3 linked regions of the Homo sapiens genome follow. The protein of the gene in region 3 interacts with the protein of the main gene of each other region in a pairwise test. Each region holds a gene or a part of one and is shown on either strand. Other genes may lie near its edges. The genes, in order: ATF7IP, PTPRG and PKD1.

What was found.
Region 1: the proteins of PKD1 (region 3) and ATF7IP interact in a two-hybrid assay, tested with the Homo sapiens proteins (one large-scale study listed by IntAct).
Region 2: the proteins of PKD1 (region 3) and PTPRG interact in a two-hybrid assay, tested with the Homo sapiens proteins (one study listed by BioGRID).

The regions. Positions count from the first base shown.
Region 1 is NC_000012.12:14,424,624-14,428,270, reverse strand, and holds part of ATF7IP (activating transcription factor 7-interacting protein 1), read right to left. Parts: coding exon 2,798-3,647; intron 1-2,797. UniProt on the Homo sapiens protein: Recruiter that couples transcriptional factors to general transcription apparatus and thereby modulates transcription regulation and chromatin formation. Can both act as an activator or a repressor depending on the context.
Region 2 is NC_000003.12:61,568,071-61,571,717, reverse strand, and holds part of PTPRG (receptor-type tyrosine-protein phosphatase gamma isoform 1 precursor), read right to left. Parts: intron 1-3,647.
Region 3 is NC_000016.10:2,133,099-2,137,318, forward strand, and holds the start of PKD1 (polycystin-1 isoform 1 precursor), read right to left. Parts: upstream 2,801-4,220; 5' UTR 2,592-2,800; coding exon 2,377-2,591; intron 2,154-2,376; exon of another isoform or gene 1,935-2,153; coding exon of another isoform or gene 1,930-1,934; intron 107-1,929; exon of another isoform or gene 21-106; intron 1-20. UniProt on the Homo sapiens protein: Component of a heteromeric calcium-permeable ion channel formed by PKD1 and PKD2 that is activated by interaction between PKD1 and a Wnt family member, such as WNT3A and WNT9B. Both PKD1 and PKD2 are required for channel activity.

The sequences.
Region 1 (3,647 bases), on a different chromosome or scaffold from region 3:
TATTCATCTCTCAGCACTTAACTGCCTTGTGTGGGATGCCCTCCAATATCAAGATTCTGACATAAAGGTACTCATTAAATCATAAGCTGCAATTTGCTTTTTTAACTTTCTTATACAGACTTTTTTTTTTTAAAGGACTTATAAGGCTTTTTTATGGACTTGGCCTAGTGCCACACTCTGTATAGACACTTATAGGAAATGGATGAAATTCATTCTCAACACTGTCACCTATTACCTTTCCAAAATGTAAATTTCATTCTCCTCTCTGCTTGAAGTTCTTTATTGGCATTCCAGCGCCATCATAAAGCTTTAGCATTATAACCAAGGTCCTCCATGATATGCTTCTCTTACATTATTGATTATTCATTCACTTTACAAATATTTACTGGGCACTTACTGTGTGCCAGGCACCGTTTTGGCCTGATGATGGTGACTCGCAGCAGGAGTAATAACAGTTGTGAATTGGACTCTAGATCTATTATGATAGTAGTACCAACAGAATTTCCTGATGGACTAATTATGGGGTGTGAAAGAAAAAATAAAAATGGTTCCAAAGTTTCTGGCCTCAGCAAGTAGGATGGAGCTGCCATTAAAAGGAATTAGACTTGGCCAGACGCGGTGGCTCACGCTTGTAATCCCAGCACTTTGGGAGGCTGAGGCAGGAGGATCACGAGGTCAGGAGTTTGAGACCAGCCTGACCAACATGATGAAACCCCGACTCTACTAAAAATACAAAAATTAGCCAGGCGTGGTGTCGCGCACCTATAATCCCAGCTACGCAGGAGGCGGAGTGGGGAGGAGAATCACTTGAACCCGGGAGGCGGAGGTTGCAGTGAGCCAAGATCGTGCCACTGCACTCCAGCCGGGGCAACAGAGCGAGACTCCATCTCGGAAAAAAAAAAAAAGAATTAGACTCATTAAAACCCTATGTTACAGCAGAGCCAATATAGCAAGACCCTGTCTCTACAAAAAAATTAAAATTTTGCCAAGTGTGGTGGCACATGTCTGTATTCCCAGGTACTCTGGGGGCTTAGGTGGGAGGATCACCTAAGCCAGTAAAGTGGAAGCTGCAGTGAGCTATGATTGTGCCACTGTACTCCAGCCTGGGCAACAGAGCAAGACTCTGTCTCACAAAACAAAAACAAGCAAACAAAAAAAACCTCTGTTATACAGATATTAAAAGGGGCAAGACATCCCTAATACATCTGGTGCTCTAATAAAGTTACCTTAATCTGCACTCCCAGAATGCCAATTTAACATTATCACTGTACTCACAGTCTTGTATTTAATGGCCTATGATTTAATTCTTGTGTGTATCCTGAGGGCAAATACTATCTTCAAATCTCTAGAACCAAGAAGGGCCTGGCCTGTCTCTTTATATAGGTTTAGTTGAATGCTCTTTGAAAATAAAAAGCCATCCTTTTTTTTTTTTTTTTTTTTTTTTTTTGAGGCAGGGTCTTACTTTGTCACCCAGGCTGGAGTAGTGGCGCGATCTCGGCTCACTGCAGCCTCGACCACCCAGGTTCAAGTGATCCCCCTACCTCAGGCCCTCAAGTACCCTGGACTACAGACAAGTGCCACCACGCCTGGCTAATTTTTGTACTTTTGTAGAGACGGGGTCTCACCATGTTGCCCAGGCTGGTCTCGAACTCCTGAGCTCAAGCAATCTGCCTGCCTCAGCCTCCCAAAGTCCTAGGATTATAGGTGTGAGCCACCTTACCTGGCCAAAAAAAAAAAAAAAGCCATTTTTTAATAAGAAAAAAATCTCTACCTCCAAAAGCTGGTATGATATATTGGGGAAAAAAGTTGTCTCTGTCTCTTAGACCTGCCTCCATTTTTTTTTCTTTGAAGAAATTAGATGGTGTTTTATGCTAGCAAGGTCACTTCTCTCAGAGATGTCTAAATCTAAAAGAATGTGATATAATGGGAAAAGAAAGGTATTCATGCTTTTCTCAGTCTTCCACAGGCTTAGAAAGTTTCATAGAGGAATAATGTTTTTCAGTTTGACCATAAAAGAAGGTAGAATTTTTCTCATTCTTTTTCTCTAGGAATAATAAATAAAATAAAAGAGATGGGAGAGATAGGTACTGAACAAATCATAAAGTTAATGTACCTTTTACATAAGGAGTTTGAAATCAACCTAAAAGTAACAGAGATCTAAGACATAGACGGACAATATCAAATAAGAGAATTGGGTTACAGGGAGCTCATTCAGAAAATGAGGAAGAGAATAGGTTGGGTAGAATCAAAAGGGCTGAGGGAGCAAATGGGTAAAGTCTTTATCAAATGGATAATCAAGCTTTAAGGTTTCTGGCTTACAACAATGGTGCTGTCATTCCTGGACAAAGAATATTAAAGAACAGGATTTCATTGGGAATATTAATTGAAAATATAATTTGTTACACTTGAAGCAAATAGATTAAACTATTAGGCTTTTAGTTCTAAGTTATTTGTTCGCTAAGTGATAGCAAGAAAGAACTGCTACAACTCTAGTCAATTATGTACTAACTTAAACTGTTATCTCAGTGTTATGGTGCTCTACTTCATCTCTATTTCCAGACTATAAGGGCATATTTTCTACTTATTTTATCTCCCTTCTTAGTATTTAGTACAATGCTACTCACAGAGTACACACACTAATTCTGAATTCTATGAAGTTAAGACATCTTTCTATAGAGTCATCACCATTCTCAACTTTCTCTGCAGCTAAAATAAATTTAAAACATTATGATAATGTTTTATTAAACAGTTCATCAAAGTCAATAAAAAATCTTTAACATTTAAGTTATATGCTAACCTGGAGAGCACGTTTCATTTTGCGATATAACTTCAGACTCATCTTTTTCACCCGAAATATCCTCTTCATCAGAGAGGACCAGAAAGGCTTCTTTTGGCAAACTCTCACTACTTTCTTGTTTAGATGGTGAACCAAAAGAACTTTCCATTTTCTCTTCCAAATCTGGATTTGTCTCATCGATTGGAAGGAGAGATGTTTTAGAAAAGCAAGTAAGTTCATCCTCAGAAGGTGCAAGCTTTTCCAAAATAGGAATGATTTCATCTGTCTCCATAGAGTCTGTATTTTCTAAGATATTCTCACTTTTGTTATCTTCAATAACATTTTCATTAATCGTTTCTACAAGATCTGCAGAAGTTTCATCTTCATTCTTTTCACCTTGGTCAATTTCCATACTGCTAGATATAGCATCTTCTCCAAGAGCAAGCTCTGTGATAATATCTTCCTCTACCTTCTTTTCATTTTCAGGAGGTCGATCTGAACAAATAGTTGTATCATCTGTTTCTAGAGTTTCTTCATTAGCATCAATATTATTATCAGCTTTATTTTTCTCATCCAATGAGTCTTTACTCTGAATTTGCTCTAATTTTTCATCAGCTCCATTTTTTTCAAGAAAATCATCATCTTTATTGCTACTTGGTTCTATATTGTCAATTTCAGGAACTGGTTCACAAACTGGTACAGACTTTGGTTCAAAGGTACGATCAAAGGTTGATTCAGAAGTCAGCTCATCAGAGGCCAGTTCACCAGTGGCCAGATCATCAGAGGCCAGTTCACTAGAGGATAGATCACCAGAGGCCAGATCATCAGAGGCTGGATCAGTGGAAGCTGGTGCTCCAGAAGCCAGATCAAC
Region 2 (3,647 bases), on a different chromosome or scaffold from region 3:
TTCAAAGCCCCAAACAAAAGTTCTCAAATTACAAAGCAAATCAATTTAGGTAATTTGGAAGAGGAGTAGTGTCAAAAAAAAACTCACCACCAACAAATTCAGACTCTATCCACAGTTATTATCAGCTTATTCAGAAGCTAAAGTAATTTGCTGAAAGGTCATCTCTTCAACGTAACCAAATAAAATCCTATACTAATTGCATTACTTACTTATTTAATTGTAGCAAGTACAGGAAGACACCTTTATTCCACCCAGTGTTCATGGCACTTGCTTATATGGGAAAAGTAACAGGGTGAAATACATAAAAAGCTAGATCTTTCAATTGGCCCTCCTGTGCAATTAGGAAAAATAGTTTCCATACTCTCTTCAAAAAGCAAATGGTCTGAAATAAAATTTAAAAAAAATCCTGAGCAATGATTAGAGAAACATATTACAGTCACCGCCCCCCACCGCTCCCCGCGCCTTGCTACCCCGGTGACCTTGGACCTACCTTCTTCAACTTTAGTTTCCTAACCCTACAGTGGAAATAATCATGGTTCATACTTCCAGGGATGATTAAAAGCATATAAAATGCTCAAGCACGGGGCATAGATCACATGTGCTTGGTAAGCGTAGGCTATTATAATTACTATTCCCATTTTATAGATTAAAAGGGTGAGGCCCATTTGCCCAAGGTAAATGCTGTAATGAACTAAGAATTTCAACCCAGGTCTCTGTGGTTTTGGTGTGGATTCTGAATAAGAGATATGTATATCTGAAACTCCCAGAGCCCCAGCGCCACCCAACCCCACTTCCGTAAGATGTTGGGTAACCACCCTTAGCTACCCACAGACAGAGCTAAGCCTCCACACTTACTGAAGAGAAACGCTTCTGGAAAAGTGTCATTTTAAAAACAGGTAGAACTCATTTATAAATAACCACCGCTTTGTAAATAAATCCTTTTGACAATTCTTAAAAAGTTCTCGAGACAACCTTAAAAAGTCAGTAATATTTCCTCACTAATCTGGACTATGCTTTTATGCTTGGTCAATTGCTTATGGCTGTGTCCCCTTATCCAAATCATTCCCAATTAATGAACAGATCTGATTTAAGTGCACTGCAGGATTCATGAGGCAGCAATGCTATGAAAACTCAAATACCTCTTAGATGTATATTGTAACTAGTATGAATTCCTCAAAAGTATATCCACTGCATTATACAACACCCTGCTTCACTCACTTAGAAAGACAGTATCACAGACCCAAAAATAAGACCAGTTGTCCTATTTTCTTACATGGAAGTGTTACATATTCCATGAACTATGCTTTCATTTTTTTCTTTTTTAGTTGCTAGAATTCAGCAGCCAACTGTGTCACTTTGCTACTCCCCAAAAATAGCTAAACTGAGTAGTTTAAAATCACATTTTGTTGTTTGGCCAGAAAAATATCATGCTGATTTCAGTCTGCAAAAAAAAAAAAGAAAAGATTAGAGGGTACGAGGTGTGCATCAGTGTTTGGTTCTCTCTCATATGCTCTGTAGCTCTGAATCCATGAACATATAGAGACAGGACATCAATGTGTTCAAGTGTCACACAAGTGTAAAATAAAAGCAAACACCCAACTACTGTTTGCTTCCCATCAGTGGAGCCAAATTGAATCCCAGTAATGAGTAACCTATTTCCCTCCATTACCACACTGTCCATAAAGCCTGAGAAGAGGAATTAACATCTGAGGGTGCAGGACTAGGCGACTCTTTCTACACAGGGATTTGGAAGACTTATGAGACACATTTTAAGCCCACAGAAAGCATTTTTCCCACTTTAAGCTGAGAAAGCAGAGACCTCCTTTGCAATGTGGGCAAGGTGATATCTCAGACTTCATGAGGACTTTCTCATTTATTTAAACCTCAAAATGTAACCTGTTAGTAATCTTACATAGAATGTCCCCATGCTGATCCCTACTCCTCCTCACCCTCAACAGCAAAGACAGATACAAAAACCCATCACGTATGTTTATACAATTTTTCAAAAAGTTGTCTATACATACAGTTGTCCTTTTCAGTTCCACCGTCCGCTTTCCATACACTCCTATCCAAATCTCTTAAGAACACTTAAAAACGGTGGCCAGGAGCAATGGCTCAGGCCTGTAATCCTAGCACTTTGGGAAGTTGAGGTAGGAGGATCACTTGAGGTCAGGAGTTTAAGACCAGCCTGGGCAACACAGGGAGAGACCCGGTCTCTATAAAAATAAACATATAAAACTTTTGATTTAAAAAAATGGTTATTGAGCACTTACTGTTTACCATGCACAGCACTAAGTCCTTATATACATTCTCATTCAAGCCTCACAAAGACTTTAGGAGTTAGGCTTCTATCACCACCCCATTTCACAGAGGAAGAAAAAAATAATGAGGCACAGAGAGGGTATGTAACTTTTCTAAGGTAGCACGGCTAGCAATGGCACAGGTAGGCTGGCTCCAGAGGCCATATTCTTACCTATTTTGCTATGTTCTGTATAACTCTCAATAGCCACCTAGTTTAGAAAACAAATAGAAAAGCATTAACAAGTTCCAGGCTCCTAAAAGATTTTTCTTCCTGCTACATGCTGACAAAATAGTATGGCAACTCTCATCAACTGGCTGACACATGAAGTTTTCATTCAATGTGTAAGTTACCTCCATCCCCACACCCACCACAAGTACAAGTGAAACACTACCCAATTCCGTTTGGGAGGCTTCCAAAACAGAAACCAGGCACATATAGAAACCTCATCAGCTGTCATTCCTCTTCCTATCCCTGGAAGCACTTAAAACGAATCTTTTTTTTTTTTTTTGAGACGGAGTCTTGCTCTGTCGCACAGGCTGCAGTGCAGTGGTGCAATCTCAACTCACTGCAACCTCTGCCTCCTGGGTTCAAGCAATTCTCCCGCCTCAGCCTCCCGAGTAGCTGGGACTACAGGTGTGCACCACCATGCCCAGCTAATTTTTGTATTTTTAGAAGAGACAGGGTTTCACTATATTGGCCAGGATGGTCTCAATCTCTTGACCTCATGTTCCGTCCGCCTGGGCCTCCCAAAATGCTGGAATTACAGGCATGAGCCACCATGCCAGGCCAAAAAAAAAATTTTTTTTACAGTTGTATTAAGGGCTGCAATCATAAAAACCTTAGGCCTGCATAGATCCAGCAAGCTATCTCACACAGAATATATTTTTCTGTCAAAACACCAAATATCTTGCCACAAATGATACCAGGTGAAATGGTCCCTCCAATTATAGTTGTCCCAATAGAAGGGGACAATCACTCAAGAAGCCCTCTAGCTACTTAAAGCAATCTTGCACAGCCATCACTTATACCTAACAATCCTTTTCATACTGAGTTAACCACAAATTTATCTGTTCTACATCTCAATCATCACAGACTTTCCTGACAGTGAAATTTACCTGTATTACTTTAAGACATCTTTTAAAGAGACATTAACAATCCCATGTTCTTAGAAATTTGCAACAGGCAAATTGTAGGGAAAAGCAAGGAGACGTAAATACAGGTTTCTGGAATATACTTATCCTTTTTATTGATTTTGTTGGTTACAACTCCACATAAACACAATACCAAAAATAAGTCAAAGCCAAGTCCGATAACTCTTTTTTACACAAGTATAGTTGATTTTTTA
Region 3 (4,220 bases):
AAAAAAACACATGGGTCAGGAGGGAGAAGGGTCGGGGCAGGGAGGGCAGGGCAGGCTCTGGGGTGGGGGGTCTGTGAGTCAGCCACGGCTCTGCCCACGTCTCCCCACGAAGCTTCGAGCCACGCAGAGCAGCACGTTTTGCAGTACGCCATCTTTTCCAAAAGCCACCACCTCTCGGCAGCATCATTAACCCAAGGCAGGCTGTGGCCTCAGAAGCCCCGGCTGTCCTCCACCTGGAACTGGACACAGCTGTCCCTGCTGAGCTTCAGCAGCCAGGGAGCCACAAGTGGAGAGGCACCTGCGTGAGCCCCCCAGGAAGGCTACTGGTGACACCCAGACAGCAACGCTCTTGGACCCTTGAACACCTGCCAGCAGCTGTGATCTGTGTCCTTCACCTCTCCCAGCTTGACCCCTCTTCCCTGGGGAAAACCCAGCCGTCTCCCCGAGGAGGAGTTTGCAGGGTAGACAGCAAAATGGCTGGGCTGCCCCACAGCACAGAGGGTGGCCTGGGGGGCCAGCCAGGGCCTTCACATCCTTCCTAAGGCCCTAGTTTGCCATGGGTCCCCTCACCCCACCTTCCAGAACTCTCCCAGCGGCGGCCCCAGGTGTGTACAGAACAGCACCCACCTGCCCACATGAGGTCACCCTGTGCCCTGTTGCACACTTGGGGGGCCTGGCATTCGGAATCTTGCCAGCTCAGGCTGGGACAGGCCACCAACTCCCAGGGTCCCCCTCCTCCAAACCCCAGGACCAGAGCCTAAGAGGACAACACAAGGCAGGGGCGGGGGCTCCACTGCTGTGCCAAGGGCCTGGAGAACACGGGCCTTGCTCTCCGCTCAGCAGCCACCAGCGCCCTTCTCTCCCGGACAGCTCCTGAGGGGCTGCTCTCATGGACACCATCAGGTGCTGGGAAGCAGGAACCACCAGGCCCTGGACAGAGTCCCCAGTGACCGGCCTGGCAGACAGAGGAGCCCTCAGCTACAGCATCACAAACAACGGGTGGGGTAGGTCTGATGCAATTCTGTGGGTGCTGTTGCCAGGCAGGAGGAGGCCATCTCCACAGAGACAGCCGCGAGACACACGCGTCCGCAGTCAGGGAGCGCAGGAGCAATGTGGCCCCGAGGGGCACGGGCTCCATTGGTCCAGGAGAACCCATTCTTCTCCCACCCTCGAGACCACCCAGCAAAGCCCCAAGGACACACGGCTCCCCTAAGGAAGGGTGGCCACAGGCGGGAGTGACCCAGAAACGTTACAAAACCAAATGCCAGAACCCACCCAATGTTTAGCAAGCCTGGGGATGTGCCACGTCCCCCAGGGATCCAGCACGCACCCAAGGAGACACTGTCCCGGCGAGGAGCCTGGAGCCTGGGAAATACAAGGCATCAGACTGGTCCCAAGACTCTCCCCAGCGCTGGGGACAACTGTCTGCTTATCTTAGTCCCCTCCGCCCTTTTCAATCCAACCCTGGGTCCTGGGCACCTCATAGTTCCAAACCCCTGCTATGCACATCCCGGCTGTGATGCCTGGGACAGGTCGTGTCACCTCTCCAAACCTGTTTCCTCATCTGTGAAATGCAAATCTCCACGGTCCCTATGCCTCGGATGGTCAGAGTCAGGATTCCGCATGACGACCCCCAACAGGAGCCTGGCACAGACCTGGCTCTGGGCAGCGTCTCCATAAAGGCCACCTGTTGTTTTTATCTCCCGAAAGCGAACATGACAAGGCTTTAACCCCCCACGGCAATCCCCCCTCACCCCTGTTCTCAGGATAGCCTTGGAACCCAATAGCAGAGCGCCTGAGGCCCTTCATGACCCCAGCCCACCCGCGAGCCCACCTCCCACCCTGCCCCTACCCCTCACACCTCCCGTGGCCAGCCTCCAGCCTCACGGTCTTTGCTCACACCGTTCACCCCCCTTCTTCTGGACCCACCTCATCGCCCCTTCCTAAGCATCAGCCCAATTCTTGCACATCCATCAAATCCTTTTCCAGACACCTCCTGGAACTCTTCCCTGCCGCCCCCTACAGCCATCCCCACCTCTCCGGGTACCCCGCAGCCCCAGGCCGCATCCCAATTCCTCTCCAATTAGCGACTGTTTGTCCTCCCAGCTGAGCGCGGCCTCCGCGCCCCGCCCCCGCTGGCGTCTGCAGAGCCCCCGGGTGGGACGTCTGTCTCCAGACCCGGGGTTTTTCGGCTCCCCGGGGCCGTGCCAACCGCGGCTCCAGGCGTTCCTTATTTAGCAGGGCCGCCGTGCCGCGCCGGAGCCTCGCCCTGGGAGCGTCCTGGCCCGCGTCCTGCTTCCCGTCCCGGGCCAGGGAACGCGCCCACGCCCGCCCGTCCCGCGGCCTCTCCCGGGTGCCGCTGGGCCCGCTACTCACAGCGCTGTGGCGTCCGCGGGGATGCGCAGCGCGGGACCGAGCGTCCGCAGCCCGCGGCCCGAGCAGTTGACGCGGCAGGCGGCGCCGGGCGCTGGGCCGCAGAGGCAGGGGGGCTCGCAGGGCCCGCAGCCGCGCCCGGGGCCCCCCGCCAGCGCCCCGAGCCACAGGCCCAGGCCCAGGGCCAGCGCCAGGCGGGCGGGCGCGGCGGGCGGCATCGTTAGGGCAGCGCGCGCATGGCCCCGCCGTCCCCAGGCCCGCCCGCGCGCGGAGGCCGCAGCTCAGGCGGGGCCCGCGGACGGCATGGCGGGCGCGGGGCTGGATGGGGCTGCGGCCGCGACCTGCTGCTGAGCGACGCCCGCTCGGGGCTCGGGGCCAGGCCGCTCCGGGAGCTCGGCCGCCCGCTCGGACGCTGGCGCTGCAGTGCGGGCCCCGCCGCGGCTCCTCCTCCTCCTCCCCGCGCGGCGCGGGGCGGACGGGGCGAGGGGGGGCGGGGCGGGTGCAGGCTCCGCCCCCTTCGCCACAGCGCGACCGGGCCAGCGATGAGGGACTGGCATCCGGAGGCTTCACCCTCCGCTCCACAGGGTCGGCAGCAGGGCGGGGCCTCCGGAAGCTCCGCCCCACGCGTTCCCGGGGCGCATGCGACGTGGGGCGGAGCGTCTGGAAGCTCCGCCCGTCGCACTGCAGAGTCGGCCGAGGCGCACGAGCTATTTTTCACGCTCCGCCCCGCTGCAGGCTAAAGTGCGTGGGCGGGAAGCGGTGGGCAGGGTGCCATCTGGCTCCGCCCTTCTCCTGTGGTGTGGGCCAGGCGGCGGGTTCCTCCTCCTGCAGCAGCCACAGGCTCCACCCTGATCCTTCTTCCGCGGTGTGGATCCTTCTCCCGCAATCTCCGTGCGCGGCCCGAGTCAGTACCCGCAGCCTCCCGACGCACCCGCTGGCTCCAAGCCTCCCTACCCCAGGTTTCCTGGCTGAGAGAGAGACAGAGGGAGAGAGGGGGAAGAGAGAGAACAGGCAATGGGAGGTTGATGGTGAGAGCTTATTGAAAGACAAGAGGGAGGAAACCCACATCCTTCATTCCCCATCCATTCATTTATTGCCTTATTTATTCCATTGAATCTTCACAGCTCTAGAAAAAGTGTGCTACAATTATTCCCTTTATTAAATGAGGTCACTGAGGCACAGACAGTTTAAGAAATTTGCCAGCAGGGCACAGTGGCTCACTCCGGTAATCCCAGAACTTTGAGAGGGGGAGGAAGGTGGATCCCTTGAGTCCAGGAGTTGGAGACCAGCCTGGCCAACATGGCGAGACCCCGTTTCTACAAAAATTAGCCAAAATTAGCCAAACTGGCTCACGCTTGTAGTCCCAGGTACTCGAGAGGCTGAGGCCGGAGGAGCGTGTGAGCCCAGTAGGCAGTGGCTGCGCTGAGCCGTGATTGTGCCACTGCACTCCCGCCTGGGCAAAAGAGTAAGATCCTGTCTCGAAAAAAAAAAAAATGGAAAAAAGAAAAAAAGAACTGGCTGGGAGTGGTGGCTCATGCCTGTAATCCCAGCACTTTGGGAGGCCGAGGCGGGCAGATCACAAGATCAGAAGTTCGAGACCAGCCTAGCCAACATGGTGAAACCTCATCTCTACTAAAAATACAAAAATCAGCTGGGCATGGTGGCAGGCACCTATAATCCCAGCTACTAGGGAGCCTGAGGCAATAGAATCGCTTGAACCTGGGAGGCAGAGGTTGTGCCACTGCACTCCAGCCTGGGCAACAGAGCAAGACTCCGTCTCAAAAAAAAAAAAAGAAATTTACCAGGTCACACAGCAGGTGGATGGTAAGGCTGCGATTGTATTCCAA